3 separate regions of the Homo sapiens genome follow, and all the other regions are linked to region 1. The links come from fine-mapping of genetic effects on gene expression. A gene starts in region 1. Each other region holds a variant in brackets. All regions are shown on one strand. Distances are between the middles of the regions. Region 1 holds the start of LMAN2L (lectin, mannose binding 2 like). Region 2 has its middle 25 kb from the start of DUSP2. Region 3 overlaps LMAN2L (lectin, mannose binding 2 like).

What was found.
Region 2: its variant is fine-mapped to the expression of LMAN2L in whole blood (TOPMed, PIP 0.96).
Region 3: its variant is fine-mapped to the expression of LMAN2L in whole blood (INTERVAL, PIP 0.92).

The regions. Positions count from the first base shown.
Region 1 is chr2:96,736,098-96,744,283 of GRCh38, forward strand. LMAN2L (lectin, mannose binding 2 like) reads right to left here and starts at 3,967. Exons shown (of 8, transcript NM_030805.4): 1 at 3,757-3,967; 2 at 1,852-1,970. The coding sequence starts at 3,943. RefSeq lists enhancers at 2,343-3,282, 3,283-4,220.
Region 2 is chr2:96,165,968-96,174,153 of GRCh38, forward strand. No RefSeq gene overlaps it. Among named protein-coding and RNA genes, the nearest start is that of DUSP2, 25 kb to the left of the region's middle. The variant GC/G (reference allele first, on the strand shown) is at 4,865.
Region 3 is chr2:96,713,955-96,722,140 of GRCh38, forward strand. The region is part of intron 4 of LMAN2L (lectin, mannose binding 2 like); the gene reads right to left. Among named protein-coding and RNA genes, the nearest start is that of LMAN2L, 22 kb to the right of the region's middle. The variant T/C (reference allele first, on the strand shown) is at 3,316.

The sequences.
Region 1 (8,186 bases):
GCAGAGTCACAGAAGTTCCCAGTGAGCCAAGAGGTGTCTGTCACTGATTCCTGGCCTCCTACAGCACAATGCTATACTGTTTTGCTCAGGACCATGTCTAATTGTGGTTCTGAAATTCTGCCACACACTGGATTCACCTACGGAGTTTTAAAAAATCCCAATGGCCAAGCTGCACCCTATTCCAATTAGATCAGAATCTCTGGGGATGAGACCCAGGCATTGATTCCAATGGATAGCCAAATTTGAGAACCACTGCTGAAACAAATGCATCCTATTCAAATAACTCAGAAACAAGCCCATAGTCATGGTGATAGCCAGATAACAGCGAATACAGGTATCAGAAGTCGAAAAAGGGAAGAACTAGAGGCTATACTAGAACTGCTGCTACAAGTTATGTAGAGACAGACAGCCAGCAAGACAGCAGCAGAGTATCAAGCCTTGAACATAATCATCCGGTAACCCACAAGAGCCCCATCAACAAACCTGTAGAAGTGTAATAACATAACACATATTTCTATAACCATTTTAACTTGCCACAGTCTTTTCATGTCTATTGTCCTATTTTATTCTCACGACAACCCCAGTGGGCAAGTAAAACAGGTATTCTGAAGCTCATTTATCAGATAGAGAAACAGAACTAAGAAGTTAAATAATCTGCCTAGGGCTCACAGGAGGACTGTGACAGAGCTGGACCGAGAATCCCAGTCTTTCAACTGTCCTTTATCTCTGCTACGAAAACACAATGCTCTGTACTCTGTCCAAAAATGAGCTCGGCACTATGATCTAGGTTAAGGGGCCAGTTTGTGCAGATAGCTAATGTAGAAATTTCTCTTGCCCTCCTGAACAGGGAAAAGAAATCGTTCTCTTTTCTGAGATTCGCTTATCTACAACTAATGAGAAAAGCCACGTAAAAAAGTAAGTTCTTAGTTTAAGAGAATTCCAGAGAAAGTATCAAAGGATGCCAGAGTCATGCCCAAAAGTAAACTGGTCGTAAAAGATTTAGAAAGCCCTGGAAACAGAAAAGAAAGCATCATCTTACACTTGTACAAAATCACAGTGCAGCCACACCAGGAATACTGCATTCACTTCTTGTCGCCATACCTCAAGGAAGACAATGCAGCTAGAAAAGGTCCAGAGAAGGACAAATAAAATGACCAACAGCTCAGAGTGGCTTTCACATGAAAATAAAATTTTATATCAGACTCTTCAAATTGAAATAACAAGATGGGGATGCTGGGATAAGGTTTGGGATCAATTTAAGAGTACTCTCAACCAGGACCGGTGGCTCACACCTATAATCCCTGACCTTTGGGAGGCCAAGGCAGGAGGATTGTTTGAGACCAAGAGTTTGAGACCAGCCTGGGCAACATAGCAAGACCCCATCTCTACAAAAAACGTTTTAAAAATTAGCCAGGTGCAGTGGCACATGCCTGTAGTCTCAGCTACTCAGGAGGCTGAGGCAGGAGGAGCCCTTAAGCCCAGGAGTTTGAGGCTGCAGTGAGCTATGATTGTGCCACTGCACTCTGGTCTTCTTATAATCTTCTTACAAAGTGGTTAAGCAGGAGTTAAGTTATTATTAAACCCTAAGAAGTAGTACTATTGGGCCAATCAGGAATTAACGACATTTCAGGAAAAAAAAATGAATTATTTGCTATAATTAAATAGAGAGCATTTTCCTAAATACCTGATTTATTTATTATCAAGGTCAGAATAATCTCAAAAATAAAGATCCTTGATATCCACAGAAGATAGAATACCAGGGGGATAGACAGTAAAATTAAATCAGTATGCCACTGCTGAACTTTTTAGGCCTTTCTGGGTCACCAACACAGGAGGGAGAAAGATTCTTACCACCCGGTTCCACAAGGCACCCTGTTTACTTTGCATATCTGGGGTAAGGCGGATATACTGGGTCATCACCATGGCATTGCCCATCAGATTCCACAGTGAGGAACTGCCTGTGCCCACACCTACAGGAAGGAAGTAGATCAGTTCATACTTTTCAACACCAATCCATTCAGAAAGCAGCCACCACAGAGCCTCTGAAAGCTGAGCCATCATCTTTTTCCCCCTTTAATGTCACTCAATCTCCTATCTTCTCTCAGTCATGAATCTTACCATCTCTACAGCTTTCACAAGGCCTTTATCAGGTAAGGACCCCAAAGCACATCAGAACTCTCACTTTATGCATGTTACAGTAACCATAGCTCACATCCATTCTTCCCGTTTTATATGTGAGTAAACTTCAGCATCGTAAAAGAAAAAAATTTTCCTGAGTTATATCAAAAAGAGTTTGACAGGCCAGGTGCAGTGGCTCACCCATGTAATCCCCACACTTTGAGATGATGTGGAGGGAGGGCATCTTGAGGTCAGCAATTTGAGACCAGCCTGGGCAACATAGAAAGACCCTGTCTTTACCAAAAAAAAAATTAGCCAGGTGTGGTAGTCCTTGTCCATAGTCCTAGCTACTCAGGAGGCTGAGTTGGGAGCATCGCTTGAGCCCAGGAGATTGAAACTGCATGAGCCATGATTGTGCCACTGCACTCCAGCCTAGGCAACGGAACAAGACCTTGTCTCTAAAAATATATAAATATAAATAAAAAGAGTTTGACCCTCAGGCCTCCGGGGCTTAGTCACATTCTTCCTTTTTTTTTTTTCTTTGAGATGGAGTCTCGCTCTGTTGCCCAGGCTGAAGTGCAGTGGCATGACCTCGGCTCACTGTAAGCTCTGCCTCCCGGGTTCACGCCATTCTCCTGCCTCAGCCTCCTGAGTAGCTGGGACTACAGGCGCCCGCCACCACACCTGGCTAATTTTTTTGTATTTTCAGCAGAGATGGGGTTTCACCGTGTTAGCTAGGATGGTCTCAATCTCCTGACCTCGTGATCCGCCCACCTCGGCCTCCCAAAGTGCGGAGATTACAGGCGTGAGCCACCGCCCCAGCCGTCACATTCTTTCTTTAAACAATCCTTAAAGTGTGAAGCTACTCCCTGTACCCTCACCTATAAACTTCTTTAAGAATGAAAACTTTGTGTCTGCAAACCCATAAGCATTAGCAAAGAGACAGCACAGAGGCACTCCAGGCATGTAAGTGAATAAATGATTACCCTTAGTAGTAGAGTATACTCTTGCACTTTGAATTGTTTTCTGTCCCACTACCTACGCCTTAGTGGGGAAAGACTTGTGTTAGTTAAGCCATCTGCACTGGTTTGTCATCGTTTTGTGGCTAACTGCATTAATTTTCTGGCTGATAAGCTGTGCTTAGAGTTCTGTGAACCCTAACCTCTTTCACCAACAGGGCCCCTAGGCTGGAGAAGAGAAGGTGGTTCTACCCAGCAACATAAATTTATCATCTTCTCATTTCGTTCAAGTTCTACCCCAGTTCTTCCTCCTGCTTTATTTCTAGCACATCCACAGGTCCATCTGGAGACTGGCTCATTGCTAGTAGCCCTCAATCACTCCTCACCATTCTCAATTCTCTCCCCTTCCCAAACTCCTCCTGTCTAACTCCAGGCCTAGTACTAGTGGCACCCGACAGCCCTGCCTTTACCTACTGGAAACTTCCAGAGCTTGGCAGGCACACCTAACTCCTGCCTTTCAGACCTGTGGCTCCCAAACGCGGAGGGAGTCTCCGTGGGCCCCACCACCGCCAGCAGTTTCCTCCGGGCCACGAAGCCCTTCGCCGCCCCCGCCTCTACCCCTGAAATCAAGTCCCGAAGCCCGCCCCACTGCACGACCACCTCACCCTGGGCGCCTCACCCTGGTAGGGCTTCGACAGCGAGTGCTCCCGTTTCAAGTACTCGAACGTTTGACCCGCCCCGACTTGCTGTGGCCCCTGCCCAGACCCCAACAAAAGAAGAAGGAGTAACATCCTGGACCCATCCCGAGCCGACAAACATCGCCGCCACTGCTGCCACGACCCAAGGGGTCCCAGAGTCGCCGCCATCTTTCCCACCAACGACCCTTCATCAAAAGCCCGCCCCGTCGCCCAACCCATTGGCCCGAAGAGCCATCTGCCCTGCGTCCTATTGGCTTTCGTCAAGCCCCCGCCCCTGCAGGTGACTATATCACCGATTGGCTGGCTTCTGTATCAGTTGCCTTGCCAACCCAGAAAAGGGGCGTAGCCGAATGCCCAGCCCCCCCCCTTATTTGCATTTGCCCTGAGTTCCACTAGGCTTGCTGGGATACGTAGTTTATTTGTATTTTGTTTTCTGCGTACGAGAGTAAATTTAAAGAGATAAAACGTTTCTTCTGGTCCCAAACATTCTATCCTCTCTGCAATAGTACGCTCCTGACTGCAGCTCTCTGAATCAATTTGGAAGATATAGCAGTGAAAGGAGAAATAGACAAATCCGTAAAATAGCTGGAAAACTATCAATTTATAAAAGACTTGAACAGCACTACCAACTAACTTGACCTGATGATATTTATAGAAACTCCACCTAACAACTGCGGAAGACACATTCTCTTCAAATGCAAATGACTCCTTTGCCGTGATAGTCTGGGCCATCAAGCAACCTACAGATATAAAAGAACTGAAAGCACACAAATTAATTAATTCTAAAAGCCATCACCTCCTTTCCTCCCTTCCTCTTTTTTTTCTTTTTGGTTTGAGACGAGGTCTTGGCCAGGCGCGGTGGCTCACGCCTGTAATCCCAGCACTTTGGGAGGCCGAGGCAGGCGGATCACCTGAGGTTGGGAGTTCGAGACCAGCCTGACCAAGGTGGAGAAACCCCGTCTCTATTAAAAATAAAAAAAAAAATTAGCCAGGCGTGGTGGCACGTGCCTGTAATCCCAGCTACTGGGAGGCTGAGGCAGGAGAATCGCTTGAACCTGGGAGGCAGAGGTTGCAGTGAGCCGAGACCAAGCCATTGCACTCCAGCCTGGGCCACATAGAGCAAAACTCCATCTCAAAAAAAAAAAAAAAAAGAGAGACAAGGTCTTGCTCTGTTGCCCAGGCTGGAGTGCAGTGGCACAATCTCAGCTCCAGCCTCTCCCTCCCTGGCTGAAGTGATCCTGCCACCTTAGCCTCCTGAGTTACTGGGACTACAGGCACATCCCTTCGTCTTTATCCGGCACCACAACATGTGTCCAGACTGGTCTCCACGTAGCCACTAAAGTGATCCAAACTATCTAACCATGGTAAGTGTCAGGGTTAAATGAGTCAATATTGGTAAACCTCTTAGAACAGTGCCTTGCGTGTAGTAAGCACTATTTCTTTCTTTTTTCTTTTCTTTTTTTTTTTGTTTTTGTTTTTGTTTTTGTTTTTGAGACAGGGTCTCTCTCTGTCACCCAGGCTGGAGTGCAGTGGCATGACCACAGCCTCAACCTCCTGGACTCAAGGGATCTTCCCACTTCAGCCTCTCAAGTAGCTGGGACTACAGGTGTGTGCCACCTCACCTTGCTAATTTTTATTTTTTGTAGCTATGGGGTTGTGGGGGAGGTCTCACTAAGTTGCCCAGATTTGTCTCATACTTCTAGACTTCAGTGATCCTCTCTCCTCAGCCTCCCAAAGTGCTGGGATTAGAGGTGTAAGCCACCGCACCAAGCCATAAGCGCTATTTCATCATCATCATTCTTATTAACCGGGCCTTTGATGGCTCACCATCACCTGTGGGGAGGAGATTCAAGCCCCTCAATTTGGCACACAAAGCCCCCTGCCATCTGGCCCTGGCCTTATTGCCCATGACTCTTTTCCTCCATCTTTATGCTCCAGCTTCCCTTCCCTCTTTTTTTTTTCTGCAGTCCACTTCCTTCTGGAGGTCCTTCTCAAACCTCTCAGGCAGGGTAGATTCTCCTGTCTGAGCTCTCAAAGTGTTCCATGCACATCTCATATAGAGCAATTGACAGATCTGTGTTTATGTCTTCCCAATAGACTTAACCAAAGTTAACACTCTCTTGCTTTCCTGAGCATGAATATATTTAATAAGATAAACATAATTATGAGCCTACTTTACAGGGGATCAACTTTTTAAAATTAAAGCTGTCACAGCTATTTTTTTTAAAGAGATGGGGTCTTGGCTGGGCACGGTGGCTCAGGCCTGTAATCCCAGCACTTTGGGAGGCAGGCGGATCACCTGAGGTCAGGAGTTCAAGACCATCCTGGCCAACATGGTGAAACCCCATCTCTACTAAAAATACAAAAAATTAGCCAGCCGTGGTGGCACACGCCTGTAGTCCCAGCTACTCAGGAGGCTGAGGCAGGAGAATCACTTGAACCCAGAAGGCGGAGGTTGCAGTGAGCCGAGACCGCACCACAGCACTCCAGCCTGGGCAACACAGTGAGACTTCGTCTCGAAAAATATATATATACATATATATACAAAAATTAAATGGGCGTGGTGGCAGGTGCCTGTAATCCCAGATACTTGGAAGGCTGAGGCAGGAGAATCACTTGAACCCAGGAGGTAGAGGTTGCAGTGAGTCAAGAAGATCCCACCACCATACTCCAGCCTGAGCAGCAGATCCGTCTCAAAAAAACAAAAAAAAGAAGAAATGGGGTCTCAATCCATCAGGCTGGGGTGCAGTACTGTGATCATAGCTCACTACAGTCTCAAACTGCTGGGTGAGCCTCAGCTAATTTTTAAAATTTTTTCTAAAGATGGGGGTCTCTATGTTGCCCAGGCTGGTTTTGAACTTCTGGCCTTAAGCGATCCTCCCACCTCATCTCTCAAAGTGCTGAGATTACAGGTGTGAGCCATGGTGCCCAGCCTGTCACTGCCATCAGTCTTTGACACCCTACAATGTCAAATGTCTGGTGCTAAGACTTTAGGAATTGCAATGAATCTGTTCGTGTCATACACTGGCTTTAAAACCATTCATAACTCCCAATTACCAAAATCCAAAGTCCTTAGTGTAGCATTCAAAGCCCTTTGCATCCTGACTGAAATCAGGCGCTACGCATGTGTACTGTAATGTGTGTCACCTGGAATTATGGAGCTCAATTAACAGATTATGGGTTTGTCTCCGCAGCAAGGCTGGGAGCTCCAGGACCACAGGAAGCAGGTCTTACTCATTTCCTAACTCAGGCCCCACCCATTTCCCCAACCCCAACCTATCACCCAGCACATAGTAGGGGTTCTAATTGTTTTGAATAAATTATTTCCATTGCATTTCTCTGCAAGATGAATTTTTAATTGTAGTAAAATGCACATAAAGGCCGGGCGCGGTGGCTCACACCTGTAATCCCAGCACTTTGGGAGGCCGAGGTGGGTGGCTCATCTGAGGTCGGGAGTTCGAGACCAGCCTGACCAACATGAAGAAACCCCGTCTCTACTAAAAATACAAAATTAGCCGGGTGTGGTGGCGCATGCCTGTAATCCCAGCTAGTTGGGAGGCTGAGGCAGGAGAATCGCTTGAACCTGGGAAGTGGAGGTTGCGGTGAGCCAAGATCGCGCCACTGCACTCCAGCCTAGGCAACAAGAGTGAAACTCTGTCTCAAAAAAAAAAAAGAAAAAAAATACATAAAATACAGCGTATAATTTTTAAGTACAGATGGTCCTCAACTTACAATGGGGTTACCTACAGAAAAACTAAACCCATCCTAAAGTCTAAAAATCCTAAGTCAAACCATCATTAAGTCAGGACCATGTGTGTTCAGTTCAAAGGCATTAAATTCATTCGCAGTGTCATGCACCCTGTCAGCTGAATTTCTGATAGATTGACACAAGCAGAAATCTCATTGTAAAATTCTGTGTGATGAGGAAAAGGGGAATAAAGGAGAAGGGTGTGAAAGGTGAGATGCACTGGACTATAAATCAAATCATTTTGTTCAGACTGTTGCAATAGGAAGAATGCTTATTAATGAGGAATGTATCAAAGAAAAGGAAGAGCCAGGCCCGGTGGCTCATACCTGTAATCCCAGTACTTTGGGAGGCTGAGGCGGGTGGATCATGAGGTCAGGAGTTCGAGACCAGCCTGGCCAATATAGTGAAACCCCATCTCAACTAGAAATACAAAAATTAGCCAAGCGTGGTAGTGCACACCTGTAGTCCCAGCCACTCGGGAGGTTGAGGCAGGAGAATCGCTTGAACCCAGGAGGAAGAGGTTGCAGTGAGCCAAGATCATGCCACTGCACTCGAGCCTGAGCAACAGAGTGAGACTCCATCTCAAAAGAAAAAAAAAAGGAAAGGAAGGACAGGCGGGGCTCGGTGGCTCACACCTGCAATCCCAGCACTTTGGGAGGCCGA
Region 2 (8,186 bases), 570 kb before region 1:
CTCCTGTATTCCTAGCACTTTGGGAGGCCAAGGCAGGTGGATCACTTGAGGCCAGGAGTTTGAGACTAGCCTGGCCAACATGGTGAAACCCTGTCTCTACTAAGAATACAAAAATTAGCTGAGAGTGGTGGCACATGCCTTTAATCCCATTATTTAGGAGGCTGAGGCAGGAGAATTGTTTGAGCCTGGGAGGTGGAGGTTGCAGTGAGACGAGATTGTGCCACTGAACTCCAGCCTGGGTGATGGAACAAGACTCTATCTAAAAAATAAAAAATAAAAAAAAAATAATGTAGGGAAAGCAACATGACACTATTGAGTAAAAACGGAGTATACTGGCTACCCCCATATTAGCAAATCTTTCTGTCTCTTTCCTCTTAAAAAACAAAAAAACAAAAACACATTTCCTATAATGTATATGGAATAAGGCGAGGGAGAAAATAATAGGGGAGTGAGACTCCCATTCTGCCTCGTACGAAATAAGAAATAATGTTGGAGACATACTAAATGTCATCTAAGACCCTTAACTCACACCACATATAAAAATTAACTAACTGGAACAGATCAAAGACCTAAATGTAAAATCTAAAATTATGCAATGTATAGAAGAAAAACATAGGAGAAAATATTTATATCTTGAACTGGACAAAGTTTTCTTAGAACACAAAAAAGCACAGGCAGGGTACGGTGGCTTACACCTGTAATCCCAGCACTTTGGGAGGCCGAGGTGGGCAGATCATGAAGTCAGGAGATCGAGACCATCCTGGCCAACATGGTGAAACCCTGTCTCTACTAAAAATATAAAAATTAGCTGGGTGTAGTGGCATGTGCCTGTAATCCCAGCTACTCAGGAAGCTGAGGCACGAGAATCATTTGAACCCAGGAGGTGGAGGTTGCAGTGAGCTGAGATTGCACTACTGCACTCCAGCCTGGCAACAGAGCGAGACTCCATCTCAAAAAAAAAAAAAGAAGAAAAAAAATCACACACACAAAATATAAACAATTGATAAGCTGAACTTTGTCAAAATTAAAACCTTTTACTCTTTGAAAGACACCTTAAAAAAACAAAAGGCCTGCTGGATGCAGTGACTCACACCTATAATCCCAACACTTTGGGAGGCCAAGGCGGCAGATCATGAGGTCAGAAGACCAGACTGGCCAACACAGTGAAACCCCATCTCTACTAAAAATACAAAAATTAGCCAGTCATGGTGGTGCACGCCTGTAGTCCCAGCTACTCAGGAGGCTGAGGCAGGACAATCTCTTGAACCTGGGAGGCAGAGGTTGTGGTGAGCCGAGATCATGCCACTGCACTCCAGCCTGGGCAACGGATCGAGACTCCATCTCAAAAACAAAACAAAACAAAACAACAACAACAAAAAAAGGCAAGCCACAGACAGGGAAGAAAATATTACCAACACATATATCAGACAAATGATACACATCTACACATCTAAAATATATAAATACACAACTCAACAATAAAATGACAATCTGATTTTTAACTGAGTGACGGTTTTGAATAACCATTCCCTCAAAGAAGATATGCAAATGGCCAATAAGCACATGAAAAGATGCTCAACATCATTAGTCATTAGAGAAATGCAATTCAAAACCACAATGAGATAACATTTCACACACATGGGGATGGCTAGAATAAAGAACAACAAATGTTGTTAAGGATGTGAAGAAGGTGAAACCCTCACAAACTGCTGGTGTGAACGTAAAATGGTGCAGCTGCTTTGGAAAATAGTTTGGTGATTCCTCAAAAAGTTAAACATCCATTAACCATGTTACAGGTAGTTAGACAGACGTGAGCCGGGCAGAGAGGACTCTCCCTCAACCCACTAGGAATGTTGGGTTGTGGTTCGGCAGTTATTGCATTGCCTCTCTAACAGTGATAAATTGGCAGCTGGTGCCAGGGAGAGCCCATTTCCTGATGGTCCACACCTGTTGCACTAACGTATTAATTAAATGCAGGTGCCAGGGAGAAGTAACTTCCCAGGCATATGCATTAAGAGACAAAATGATGGACCTCCTGGGGGCACCCCACCAGAAAAGGGAAGAAAGCCTCAGATGGGCATGCACACAACTTCCTAAACACACTGCCCCTGCTCACTTCCCAAGGGTAAGGAGGGCACTGCGCATGCGGGAAGCCCACCTGAGAGAAGAATCATGGGAAAGGGGCACAAGACGCCATAAGTGGGCCAGCCTATAAAGTCCTAGGATCAAGGTTAAACATCACACTTGTTCTTCAAGTTCCCGGCTTGGGCCTCTTCCAAGCTTGCTTTCCTTTCTTTCCTGTTTTAAAGGCTTCTAAAATAAACTTCCATTCCTGCTCTGAAAATTTGCCTTGATCTCTTTTTCTGCCCTCAGTCGAATTATTTCTTCTGAGGAGGCAAGAATTGAGGTTGCTGCAGACCCATACAGATTTGCCAGTAACTCTGATACCTTCCACCAGTAATAACCATATGACCCAGCAATCCCACTCCTACTTATACCCAAGAGAATTATAAACATATGTCTATACAGAAGTGTGCACATGAGTGTTCATCAATGGTATTATTCATAATAGCCAAAAAGTGAAAAACAACCCAAATGCCTAGCAGTGAATGAATGGACAAAATGTGGTATATCAACACAGCAGAATATTATTCAGCCCAGTGGCTCACGCCTATAATACCAATATTTGGGAGGCTGAAGCAGGCAGATAACTTGAGGCCAGGAGTTCAAGACCAGCCTGGGGAACATGGTGAAACCTCACAGCTACTAAAAATACAAAAATTAGCCAGGCGTGGTGGTGCATGCCTGTAATCCCAGCTACTCGGGAGGCTGAGGCATAAGAATCACTTGAACCCAGGAGGCAGAGGTTGCAGTGAGCCAAGACTGTGCCGCTGTACTCCAGCCTGGATGACACAGCGAGACTCTGTCTCAAAAAAAAAAAAAAATTATTCAGCCATAAAAGGGAATGAAGCATGTATCAGTAGATACATGCTATAATATGGATGAACCCTGAAAATCTTAAAAATGAAAGAATCCAGTCACAAGAGACCACATATTATATGACTCTTTCATATGAAATGTCCCAAATAGGCAAATTCATAGAGACAGACAGTAGATTAGTGGCTGCCAGGGGCTGGGGAGAGAGGGGTAAAGGGAGTGGTTGCTAATGAATCTGGAATTTTTCTGAGGGGTAATGAAAATGTTTTGGAATTAGGTCATGGTGATGGTTTTATAACCGTAAATGTGCTTAAAAACCACTGAATTGTATATATCTTAATTTTTAAAAAAGGAGAAAAATAGAAATACTCGTGTCAAGACAAACAACCCAATACAAAATGAGCAAAAGATTTCAAATGACACTTCACAGGAAGAAGTTTTATGACCACCAATAACCACATAAAAAGATGCTAAACATCATTAATCACTGGGGAGATGCAAATTAAAGCCATAATGAGAAGACAGATCACAAAACATTTTGGCAAGGAGATGGGGCAACTGAAACTCTTATACACTGCTCATAGGAATATAAAATGAGGCAACCACTTTGGAAAACAGTTTGGCAGTTACTTTAAAATATTTGAGGCCGGGCACAGTGGCTTGTGCCTGTAATCCCAGCACTTTGGGAGGCCGAGGCGGGTAGATCACCTGAGGTCAGGAGTTCAAGACCAGCCTGGCCAAGATGGTGAAACCCCATCTCTACTAAAAAAAAAATCACAAATTAGCGGGGTGTGTTGGTGCACGCCTGTAATCCCAGCTACTTGGGAGGTTGAGGCAGGAGAATCACTTGAACCCAGGAGGCGGAGGTTGCAGTGAGCCGAGATCACGCCACTGTACTACAGCCTAGGCAACAGAGCGAGACTTCGTCTCAAAAAATAAAAAATAAATAAATAAATATTTGAACATACTTTTACCATGACTCAGGCATTTCATTCCTCAGTATTTACCTTAAAAAAAAAACCTAAAATATATATTTACACAAAGACTTGTACACAAATGTTTACAGCAGCTCTATCTATAATCCTCCCAAACTGGTAACAACTCAAATGTTCCTCAACAGGTACATGAGTGAACAAATTGTGGTACATCCATTCAGTGGAATAATACTCAGCCATGAAGAGGGGTGAACTACTGATAAACACAACATGAACGATCATAGAATCATTATGCTGAATTCAAGAAGCCATAAACCACACTACAGCACATACTCTAAGATTCCATTTATATAAAACTCTATAAAATGCAGACTATTCTATGGTGGGTATGCTCAGACAGGGCAGGGGAAGACTTGCAAGGGGTATAAGGAAACTTTTGTGGGTGATGAAATGTTCATTATCTTCATCGTGATGATGACATCACAGGTATATCACATGTGAAAATTTCTCAGGTTGTGCATTTATTTAATGAATTTAAGTAAAATTTATTAGGTTGTGCATTTTAAGTACATGCAGCTTACTGTACTTTGATTATACCTCAACAAAGTCAATGAATAAAAACTACTTAATAAAAAAAGTGAGGACCTAGGTAAAGATGACAGTGGTTACCCCCTGAACCCATGCTTGACAGCAAAGAAGGTGAAGCAAAAGGCAAACCCCACACAATCAAGGAGAAAGGAAAGAAACAGGAAACATTTTTGGAAGGTGGAAAGTATATGGTCAAAATGGCAAATGGCTTAAGACAAAGAAAAAACTGAATTCCTAGCCAGTAGTGGGGACAGTTAAGAGCCAATCCAGTTTACCCAGTGGAATGCCCAAAAGGCTCAGGCTCAGTGAGGTACCATGTTGGGTGAAGAGAAGGGATAGACTAAGAACCAGCTGAAGGTTTGTGTAACAGCCAGCCAGCCTACCCTATAATGAGGTCATGGCCG[GC/G]CGCTCACATGCTGAGAACCCCCAGTCAGAGTTTCTTAATAAGAACCAACAACCAACAGCCAAGGAAAGCCTCAATCACAAAGGAGAGGCCACTAACAGGAAAAAGTAACTTGGAGGAAACATCGTGCAGGAAGAAAAAAAATTAACAAAAATCACTCCCATCCTCAGAGAGGGAAGATACTGTACCCATAAAATAAGAACAGTTGCCACAAAGAGCAAACACTCAGAAAATAGGTCTCCAGTTATTAAAAATAAGAAAGCAGAAATTTAAAACTCAATATCAGGCTGGAGGTGGTGGCTCACACCTGTAATCCCAGCACTTTGGGAGGCCGAGGTGGGTGGATCACTTGAGGTCAGGAGTTCAAGACCAGCCTGGCCAACATAGTGAAACCCCGTCTCTACTAAAAACACAAAAATGGCCGGGTGCAGTGGCTCACGCCTGTAATCCTAGCACTTTTGGAGGCCGAGGCGGGCGGATCACGAGGTCAGGAGATCGAGACCATCCTGGCTAACACGGTGAAACCCCGTCTCTACTAAAAATACAAAAAAATTAGCCAGGTGTGGTGGCAGGCTCCTGTAGTCCCAGCTACTCGGGAGGCTGAGGCAGGGGAATGGCATGAACCTGGGAGGCGGAGCTTGCTGTGAGCCGAGATCACGCGACTGCACTCAAGCCTGGGCAACAGAGCAAGACTCCGTCTCAAAAAAAAAAAAAAAAAAAAAAAAAAAGCACAAAAATTAGCCAGGCGCGCCTGTAATCCCAGCAACTCGGGAGGCTGAGACAGGAGAATCGCTTGAACCTGGGAGGCCCAGACCCCGCGGGAATTGAAATCTTACCACACCTGCTGCAGCAGCAGAGAGAGAGATCCCAATTGCCAGAGAGGGTGAGTGGTTTTGTTTATTTTGTTTTGTTTTGTTTTGTTTTGTTTTGTTTTGTTTTTGAGACGGAGCCTTGCTCCGTCACCCAGGCTGGAATGCAGTGGCGCTGTCTCGGCTCACTGCAACCTCCCAGGTTCAAGCGATTCTCTCGCCTCAGCCTCCGGAGTAGCTGGGACTACAGGCGTGCGCACCACCACACCCAGCTAGTTTTTGTATTGTTGGTGGAGATAGGGTCTCACGATGTTACCTAGGCTGATATCCAACTCCTGGTCTCCAGTGCTCCACCTATCTAGGCCTCCCAACTGCTGGGATTACGGGCGTGAGCCACCGCGCCAGCGAGGGTGGTTAGTGGTAAGGACACAACAGGGCCAGGCATGGTGGTAGGTGCCTGTAGTCCCAGATACTCAGGAGGGTGAGGCAGGAGAATCGCTTGAATGCGGGAAGCAGAGGTTGCAGTGAGCCGAGATCGAGCCATGCACTCCAGCCTGGGAGACAGAGTGAGACTCCATCTCAAACACACACACACACACACACACACACACACACTCACAAAACCCTGGAAGACAGAGTGAGACCCCATCTCAAAAACAAAAACATACACACACACACACAACCACAACCCTGGGAGACAGAGTGAGACTCCATCTCAAAAACACACACACACAGAGAGAGAGAGAGAGAGAGAGAGAGAGAAAGAACCCTGGGAGACAGAGTGAGACTCCATCTCAGAAACAAACACACACACAAAACCCTGGGAGAGTGAGACTTGGTCTCAAAAACAAAAAAACACACACACAACCACAATCCTGGGAGACAGAGACTCCATCTCAAAAACAAAAAAACACACACATACACAACCACAACAAACTAAATAAATGAAAAACCAAGTACTGGCTCTAGGAAAACAAAAAGTCGTGCTAGAAAACAGTGTAGTGTCTTGCCTGTGATATTTCCATGCTCGTAATACTGTAAATGCTAAATAATACTGTAACTAATTCAGTATAATTAAGTACTCTGGGACAAAGAGGGGATAAGGGGGGCAAGGAGGGGAAGGAAGAGCTAAGTCATTGCGAGGGGGTGGGGATGGGAAGAAAGAGCGAAGTCTTCATATAATGCCTAAAATGAAAAAGCAAGGAGGGGCGAGATAAGCACATTATTTAGAGACCTGGAGATAAATATCAATATAATATGCTGGGAGAGGTGAAACTGGCTGTCCCTGGGGAGGGGAGATGGTGGGAGGAGTTTTCATAACAAACTTTAAGAACGATTTGACTTTTTTTTTTTTTTTAGACTGAGTCTCACTCTGTTGCCCAGGCAGAGGGAGTTCAATGGTGCCATCTTGGCTCACTGCAACCTCCGCCTCCCTGATTCAAGCCTCCGGAGTAGCTGGGGTTACAGGTGGCATAAGCCATAGTGCCCGGCCATGACTTTTCCAACTATGCGCACAAATATTTGGATAAAAACTAAAAATGGTTTTTTAGTTTTTTGGGTTTTTTGAGATGGAGTCTTGCTGTGTTGCCCAGGCTGGAGTGCAATGGTGCGACCTCAGCTCACTGCAATCTCTTCCTCCCAGGTTCAAGCGATTCTCGTGCCTCAGCCTCCCAAGTAGCTGGGATTACAGACGTGTGCCACCACGCCCAGTTTATTTTTGTATTTTTAGTAGAGAATACTAAAGAGTGCTGAGATTACAGGCGTGAGCCAACGTGCTCAGCCAGAAAAAATGTTACGTACAAATACAAGTGGAGAAAAATACACTGATGCTCTGGGTTGTACAGATTATGTAATTTTTCTTTATATTTTTATGTGTAAAAGAAATGCTTAAGTTAGGCCAGGCGCAATGGCTCATGCCTGTAATCCCGAGCACTTTGGGAGGCCAAGGTGGGTGGATCACCTGAGGTCAGGAGTTCAAGACCAGCCTGGCCAACATGGTAAAATGTCTCTACTAAAAATACAAAAATTAGCCGGGCGTGGTGGTGCGCACCTGCAGTCCCAGCTACTGGGAGGGCTGAGGCACGAGAATTGCTTGAACCTGGTAGGTAAAGATTGCAGTGAGCCACTGCACTCCAGCCTGGGTGATAGAGTGAGACTCCGTCTCAAAAAAAAAAAGAAATGCATAAGTGCATTATCTTTTAGCCTCTTAATTAATACTGTAGAAAACAAAAGAATATGAAGGCAAGATCCAAAGGAGTATCCAGAACATTCTGGGTGATGAACCAGCAGGCCGCTGGTGTAACTATGTTCGAGACAGTTGGTCTCAGGAACGGAGTCACAGCTCACCCAGTCCTACTCTGTCCTTGCTACACAGGACTGAGGCTTTGCTGGTTCTCGATGCTGGGCTGTGCAATTATGTCTAGGCCAGGGTTGTCTCCCCAGCTGCTTTATAATTCCTTTGAAAGTCCTAAAGCACACAGTGGGCCCTCAATAAGTCCTTGCTGATTATCACCC
Region 3 (8,186 bases), 22 kb before region 1:
CAGAACTCAAACCCTTCACTCCTTTAATACGGTGAACACCTACTACAAGCCAGGTACTGTTCCAGATGCTGAGGGTCCAAAGAGAAACAAGACAGACAGGAATGGAATTAAGATCAGAGTGGAAGAAACAAACAACAAAGAAGCAAATAAAATTATTTCAGATAGTGAAAAATGCTATAAGGAAAATAAAATAGGTAATACAAGGGATGGGCAAGGGAACCTCTCCCTGAGGAGGCAATATCTGAGCTGAGACTCAAGTAATTAGAGGGAGTCCACCAAAAGATCTGAGGGCACAAGAAGCATGAGGGTGGCACATTCAAGGAACTGGAAACAGATCAGTCAGAATCACAGCTTGTGAGAAGAGGCTGCCATGAGGCAAGGCAGCACCCACGGCACTGGGCTCCATGGGCCACAGCCAGGAGTCCGAGGCTGCAGTGCAGATCCCCTGCCGTCCTCCTCTTAACACCACTGGCAGAATTCATACAGGACACAGAAAGGCATGACATCAATCCGTGGATGATTAAACTGGCATGAAGTTAATCTTCAACAACTACCATTTAGAACAAGGAAATGGTGAGCATGTTATCAAGCAGTTTACAGAAACTGGCATCTGAGAGTATGCTCATAATTTCAGTGACAATTAAGAAAAAGGGATTAAAAATGCCCTGTGGAGCTCTGATGAGCCCAAGGCTTCCTTCACTCATCACCTCTAGTAACCCTGATTAGAAGTTTAAGTTGCAACTTTAAAGAGATAGCAATCTCCTATGTTAGCTTGCTTAGAAAATAAACAAATAATAAAGAGACAGCAATCCTTAGCCTAAGGGTGCCTTACTCTTCCCAAGGCTGGTGTGGACCCAGTTCCAGGTAACAGCCAGAGGCATGCTGGACCTTGGGAGCACCTGAAGGAGCTTGTTAACTGCACGTATACATGGGTCCCTCAGTCAAAGAGTCTCATTCGTATGGCTAGAGTGGGGTGCAGGATTGTTTTTTGTTTGTTTTTTTGAGATGGAGTCTCACTCTGTCACCCAGGCTGGAGTGCAGTGGCGAAATCTTGGCTCACTGCAACCTCCACCTCCTGGGTTCAAGCAATTCTCCTGCCTCAGCCTTATGAGTAGGTGGGATTACAGGCGCTCGCCACCATGCCCAGCTAATTTTTGTATTTTTAGTAGAGATGGGGTTTCACCATGTTGGTCAGGCTGGTCTCGAACTCCTGATCTCGTGATCTGCCCGTCTTGGCCTCCCAAAGTGCTGGGATTACAGGCGTGAGCCACCGCACCCAGCCAGGATTATGTATTTTTAAAAAGCACCACAGAAGGCTGTGATGTGCAGCCAAATTGAAGAAACGCTGCACCAGACAGGGAGCCTCACAGCTTTGCAACTACAGAGAATCTGTCTACTTCGGCAACACGAGTTGGCCTTCAACTTTTAACCTCACATTAGTGTAAGTCACTAAATGCCATCTTATTTTCTACGCCTAGTCAAGAGTTCCTGGAAGTATTTCTTGGATAACCACTAATTTCACACAGGAGCAATTTTGTTTTTCCCCTAGAAAGCACTCTGTAAGTTAGAACCAAAGATTGAAGAATCACACTGGTTCAGGCAAGGTGGTAGTTTTATTCCTAATTTAAGAGTCACCAGAAAGGAGAAACTCTCACCTGTTTTATCATCCAAAGGACTGTTGTTTAAAGGGTGGAGAAATGTTTTCAACTTTTTGTACTACAAGACTACTTTTAAAAAAGTGTTTTTTGAAGACCTCTACGGGATAACTGTATCTTCAGCATATTTCGATGGAAAAGACACCCATTAGCTTGTGGATTTATGGATTCTAGGCTAAAATTCCAAATGGCCTCTGTAATTAGGGAGACCTGAGTTCTAACTGCAGTTATGTCACTTATAGCTGTGTAACCCTTCGGTGGATTACATCACCTCTTTGAGATTCTATTTCCTCACTGTAAACAGAACAATACAAAGCTCACAGGGTTCATTATGAAGATGAAATGAGATATGCGAAGCATTTAGTACAATGTCTTGGTGTTCAGGAGGGAGTCAATAAACATTCAATCAGTGACTAGTGTATTTCTAGATACAAATATCGTTCACAGGTACTCATATATATATAAACACAAAGCCAAACATACATCTTCTAAAGCACGAATTCCCAGACCACTGGCTGTGATCAACCATTAATATTTCCAAAAATATTTTGGAGAGTATTAGATTTGGCTTCTTTTTATTGCCTACTAAAAATATTAAAATACAATAATGACAGAACAATCATCTATAATAAACATCATTTTACAAAGGGACACTTTAACACCAAAAGATGAGAGAGAACAATGTAATTTCATAATGAAACAACTGAATACATTTAGCACTTAAGAAAAAGAACTTCATTATTATGATTCTTGCACCAGTGAAAACTCTGTTACCACACAACTGGAGTTCATACACTGGCATCTAGGAGCCACTCTTTTAGAGCAGTGTTTCCATCTCAAACCATACCATTGTCTAGTAAGCTGACCATTTGCTTTTGGGAACCCAGATGTGAAGAAGTGAAGGAGGGGAGAGGAAGAGAGAACAGAACTAAGATGTTTGCAAAATGTCCCTTAGGAATCCACTGAATGGTGTGAATAATAGCTGGTGTTTATTGAGCACTTAGTCTGTGCCAGGCACTGAACTCAGTAATGAGCCCTTCTGCATTTAATTCTCACAATCCTATGAGGTAGTATCAGTACTCCTCATTTCACAGGTAAAAAACTTGTCCAGGATAACACAGGCATTAAGTAGTGAAATCAGGATTTGAAACCAAGTATTCTGGCTCCAGAGCCCTGACTCAATCACTGGGATACACTGCTTTCAATATCTCTCAATATGGAAAAATGTTTCATATGTATTATTTTTTTAAAATCAGGTCTAAACAGTATGTACTCTGAAGCACAAAGAGAACGCTGAGAATAGTTCCAGATTAAAGGAGAGTAACAACTGAATACAACACAGGATCTGGGACTTTCTTTCATTATAAAGGACATATTGGGACAATAGGTGAAATATGAATAAGGCCTGCAGATTAGATAATGGTATTGTTACAAATGTTAACTTCCTGATTTTGATCACTGTGCTGTGGCTACATAAAATAACTTTTTTTTTTAAACACACACACACACACAAGTATTTAGGATTAAGGAGACATCATGAGAGCAATTTACTCTTAGTTCAGAAAAAAAGACACACAAGCACAAACATACACGCAAGACACATACACACAGACACACACACACAAAGAAAGAGGTTAAAGAAAAGGATGGCCAGGTGTGG[T/C]GGCTCACACCTATAATCCCAGCACTTTGGGAAATGAAGGTGGGAGGATTGCTTGACCCTAGGAGTTTGAGACCAACCTGGGCAACATGGCAAAACCCCATCTCTACAAAAAGATAGCTGGGCTTGGTGGCATGCACCTGTAGTCCCAGCTACTTGGGAGGCTGAGATGGGAGGCTCTATTGAGCCTGAGAAGTTGAGGCTACACTAAGCTGTGATTGTGCCACTGCACTCCACCCTGGGTGACAAAACCAAACCCTGTGTCGGAAAAAAAAAAAAAAAAAAAAGGACGGCCAGGCGCAGTAGCTCACACCTGTAACCCCAGCACTTTGTGAGGCCGAGGCAGGTGGATCACCTGAGGTCGGGAGTTCGAGACCAGCCTGACCAACACGGAGAAACCCCGTCCCTATTAAAAATACAAAATTAGACGGGCATGGTGTCATATGCCTGTAATCCCAGCTACTCAGGAGGCTGAGGCAGGAGAATCGCTTGAACCCAGGAGGCAGAGGCCACAGTGGGCCAAGATCGTGCCACTATACGCCAGTCTGGGCAACAAGAGCAAAACTCTGTCTCTAAAAAAAAAAAAAAAAATAGGGACAAAGCAAATGTAGTAAAACATTAACATTTTCGGAAATCTGGGTGAAGAACATTCCAAAATTCTCTTGTTATATTTTTTCCCCCTAAAGGACCAACTTTTTTTTCTTTTGAGATGAAGTCTCACTCTTGTCCTCCAGGCTGGAGTGCAATGGCGCGATCTCGGCTCACTGCAACCTCCACCTCCCGGGTTCAAGCGATTCTCCTGCCTCAGCCTCCCAACTAGCTGGGATTACAGGCACCTGCCACCAAGCCCGGCTAATTTTTGTATTTTTAGTACAGACAGGGTTTCACCATGTTGGCCAGGCTAGTCTCAAACTCCTGACCTCAGGTGATCCACCCGCCTTGGCTTCCCAAAGTGCTGGGATTACAGGCGTGAGCCACTGTGCGTGGCCGGTTGTATTCTTATAACTTAATCATAAGCACAAAATTATTATCAAATAAAGATTAATCTGAATCTAGTATTTACCATACAATTTTTCTGCTTTTCTCAATTTTTCTATATATCTGCAATTTTTTAAACATTTAAAAAGGTTTTAAAAACAGTATTTACAACATGATACAATGTCTTTGTTTTTAAAGATGTTTGTACGCTTTTGTTTTTTCAGCATTTTCTAATTCTCCTGTAATGTATATAAAAATAATTAACAAAACAAATGCCTTCTACTAGATGCTACTAAATGTGAAGCATCTCCCACCACACCTCCATTTCATCCTCCCTGGGATCACTAGCGGAACACACTGTCACTTACACACGTAGACCTGTCACTTTTTCAAAGCTGTATAAGCTGCTGGTCCTACAATAATCTTCATCTAGCCCTTTATGCAGAAATCCAGACAAAGAGGAGACAATACCCATCCTATTTAAAGTGAAAAGAAGATCAGTGAGATTCGTTACACATTACTAGGCAGCCTGAGAAGGCCCTTGCTCTGTAAGCCCCCAGACTCCCACAAAGCTATGCTAGGGACTCTGTCCCCAGGACTCACAGCTTCTCAACTGGAGGACACAGAAAAGTGGCACTTCCAGGTCTGGAAACCTTCATATAATTGAATATCATCACGCTCTCTTAAGAAACTCACGGAATGATCTCAATCTCATTTATCTTAGTCCTCAAATCAAGTAATTTGAGGACTTCAATAAAGAGTACTCCAAAATCAGGAGACTAAATTTGAGGTGTGCCCCAAGCACTGACCTTTATAACCTACCCACCCAGATTACAAGTACCAAGTTTCAGAATAGAGCCCATTATGTATGTCTTTATTTCACTGCTGACCATCATTCTGATAGTATGTCAATACTTCTTGTTAATGAGAAGAGCCATCAATTCTATAGAACAGGAGATCTTCAGATCTCCTAAAATCATGTCAACTCTTCTGTGTACATGCCTCTTTCTTGGGTCCAACACTTTAATCAGAGTCTCGAAAGGGTCAAAGCCCAAAGAAAAGAACTAACCCAGGAATAAGCATCCTCTGGAGCACTGGCCCTTGCTTTCTTCCTTTCTCCCTCTTTCACTGTCTCAGAAAAGAAACATGTTAAAATTCTCTCTGCCAACAGTAAAGAGACCACTTTGGGATCAGTGTCTTCATCAAGACAAAGACTTAAGGGGACTGAGTGTGGTGGCTCATGCCTGTAATCCTAGCACTTCGGGAGGCCAAGGGAGGAGGTCACTTGAGTCCAAGAGTTCAAGACCAGCCTTGAAAACATAGCAAGACCGTATCTCTACAAAAAAAAAAAAATTTTTTTTCTTTTTTTGACACAGAGTCTCACTCTGTTGCCCATGCTGGAGTGCAGTGGCGTAATCTCGGCTCACTGCAACCTCCGCCTCCCAGGTTCAAACAATTCTTCTGCCTCAGCCTCCCAAGAAGCTGGGATTATAGGCATGCGCCATATCCCAGCTAATTGTTGTATTCTTATTAGAGACAGGGTTTCACCATGTTGGCCAGGCTGGTCTCGAACTCCTGACCTCAAGTGCTGGGATTATAGGCATTGGCCACTGCACCTGGCCAAAAAAAGTAAAAATTAACCTGGCATGATGGCCACCTGTAGTCCCAGTTATTCAGAAGGCTGAGGCAGGAAGACTGCTTAAGCCTAGGAGTTCGAGGCTGCAGTGAGCTATCACTGTGCCACTGCACTCCATCCTGGGCGATAGAATGCAAGACTCAGTCTCAAAAGAAAAAAAAAAGACTTGAGGAAATGTTTTTTTAACTGGATGGCATGGTATTGTTAAATTTTCTTCCAGTTCAAAGGAGGAAAAAACAATCATCACATCAAAAAAAAGTATGAGGAGTATCTCAAAGTATGGGGAATACCTCAAAAACAACTCCCAAGCTCTTCTCCCCACTCTCTAGCTATTTCTGCCTCCCCAGGGGTGAGGCCCAAACATCTCACAGAAAAGAATGAAGGCCAAGACCGCAACGGTTACACTCTGTGCTCTCATTCCAGGAAGGCCTCTTCTCATTCATTACGCTCTGATTTCAACGGAAGCACATTGTAGCTCCAAGATTGCTACTGACTTCCCTGCAACTTTTCACCAACATCTGGGTAGGTTTGTGTGAGAAAGTGATGATCATCAGCTGATGACTTGATAGTGCAAGATAATCAGGTTATCTTTACCTTTTTTTTTTTTTTGATTTTTTGTAGAGATGAGGACTTGCTATGTTGCCTAGGCTGGTTTCAAACTCCTGGACTCAAGCTATCTTCCTGCCTTGGCTTCCCAAAGTGCTGGGATTATAGGCACGAGCTACTGTGCCTGCCCACTGGTGATCTTTTAATCAACATTAAAAAATAACTACAATACAGCCAGGCGCGGTGACTCACGCCTGTAATCCCAGTGCTTTGGGAGGCTGAGGCGGGCAAATCACAAGGTCAGGAGTTCGAGACCAGCCTGGGCAACATGGTGAAACCTCGTCTCTACTAAAAATACAAAAATTAGCCAGGCGTGGTGGCAGGCACCTGTAATCCCAGCTACTCGGAATGCTGAGGCAGGAGAATCACTTGAACCTGGGAGATGGACGTTGCAGTGAGCCAAGATCACGCCACTGCACTCCAACCTGGGCGACAGGGTGAGACTCAGTCTCAAAAAAAATAAATAAAATAAATAACTACAACACTGAGATATAATTCACAGTCCACACAATTCACTTAAAGTATATAATTCAATGGCATTTAGTATATTCAGAGTTAAGATTATGATTACCACAACCAATTTTAAAACATTTTCATCACCCCAAAAAAAAATCTCATGCCCACTAGTAGTCACTCTCCTCATCTCCACCCCACATTACCCCAGCCCTAGACAACCACTAATCTACTTTCTGTCTCTACAGATTTGCCTATTCTGGACATTTCATATGCATGGGATCATACAATGTGTGGGTCTTTTGTGACTGGCTTCTTCCACTTAGCATAGTGTTTTCATGGGTCATCCATGTTGGAGCACATATCGATACTTAATTTCTTTCAGTCTTTTTTTTTTTTTTTTTTTTTTTTGAGACAGGGTCTTGCTATGTCACCCAGGCTGGAGTGCAGTGGTGTGATCAAGGCTCATTGCAACCTCGAGGTCCTGGGCTCAAGTGATCCACTCACCTTGGTCTCCTAAAGTGCTAGAATTACAAGTGTAAGCCACTGTGCCTGGCAATTACTCCTACTTTGTTTTTTTTTTGAGACAGTCTTGCTCCATCGCCCAGGCTACAGTGCAGTGGCAATCATAGCTCACTACAGCCTTGACCTCCTGGACTCAAGCAATCCTCCTGCCTCAGCCTGCAAAGTAGCTGGGACCAGCTAATTTTTTTTGTTTTTTGTAAAGATGGGGTCTCCCTATGTTGCCCAAGCTGATCTAAAACTCCTAGACTCAAGCAATCCTTCCACCTTGGCCTCCCAAAGTGTTGGGATTATAGGCACGAGCCACCACACCCAGTGATACTTATTTTCATTGCTGATATTTCCATTATAACAATATATCACATTTTGTTTATCCTCTAATCCAGTAGTCCTCAACCTTTTTGGCACCAGGGACTGGTTTCCTGGAAGACAATTTTTCCATGAACCGGGGAGTTGGAGGGGGGGTGGTTTCGGGATGATTCAAGCACATTACATTTATTGTGTACTTTCTTTCTTTTTTTTTTGAGACGGAGTCTCACTCTGTTGCCCAGGCTGGAATCCAGTGGCGCGATCTTGGCTCACTGCAAGCTCCGCCTGCCAGGTTCACGCCATTCTCCTGCCTCAGCCTCCCGAGTAGCTGGGACCATAGGTGGCCGCCACCACGCCCGGCTAATTTTTT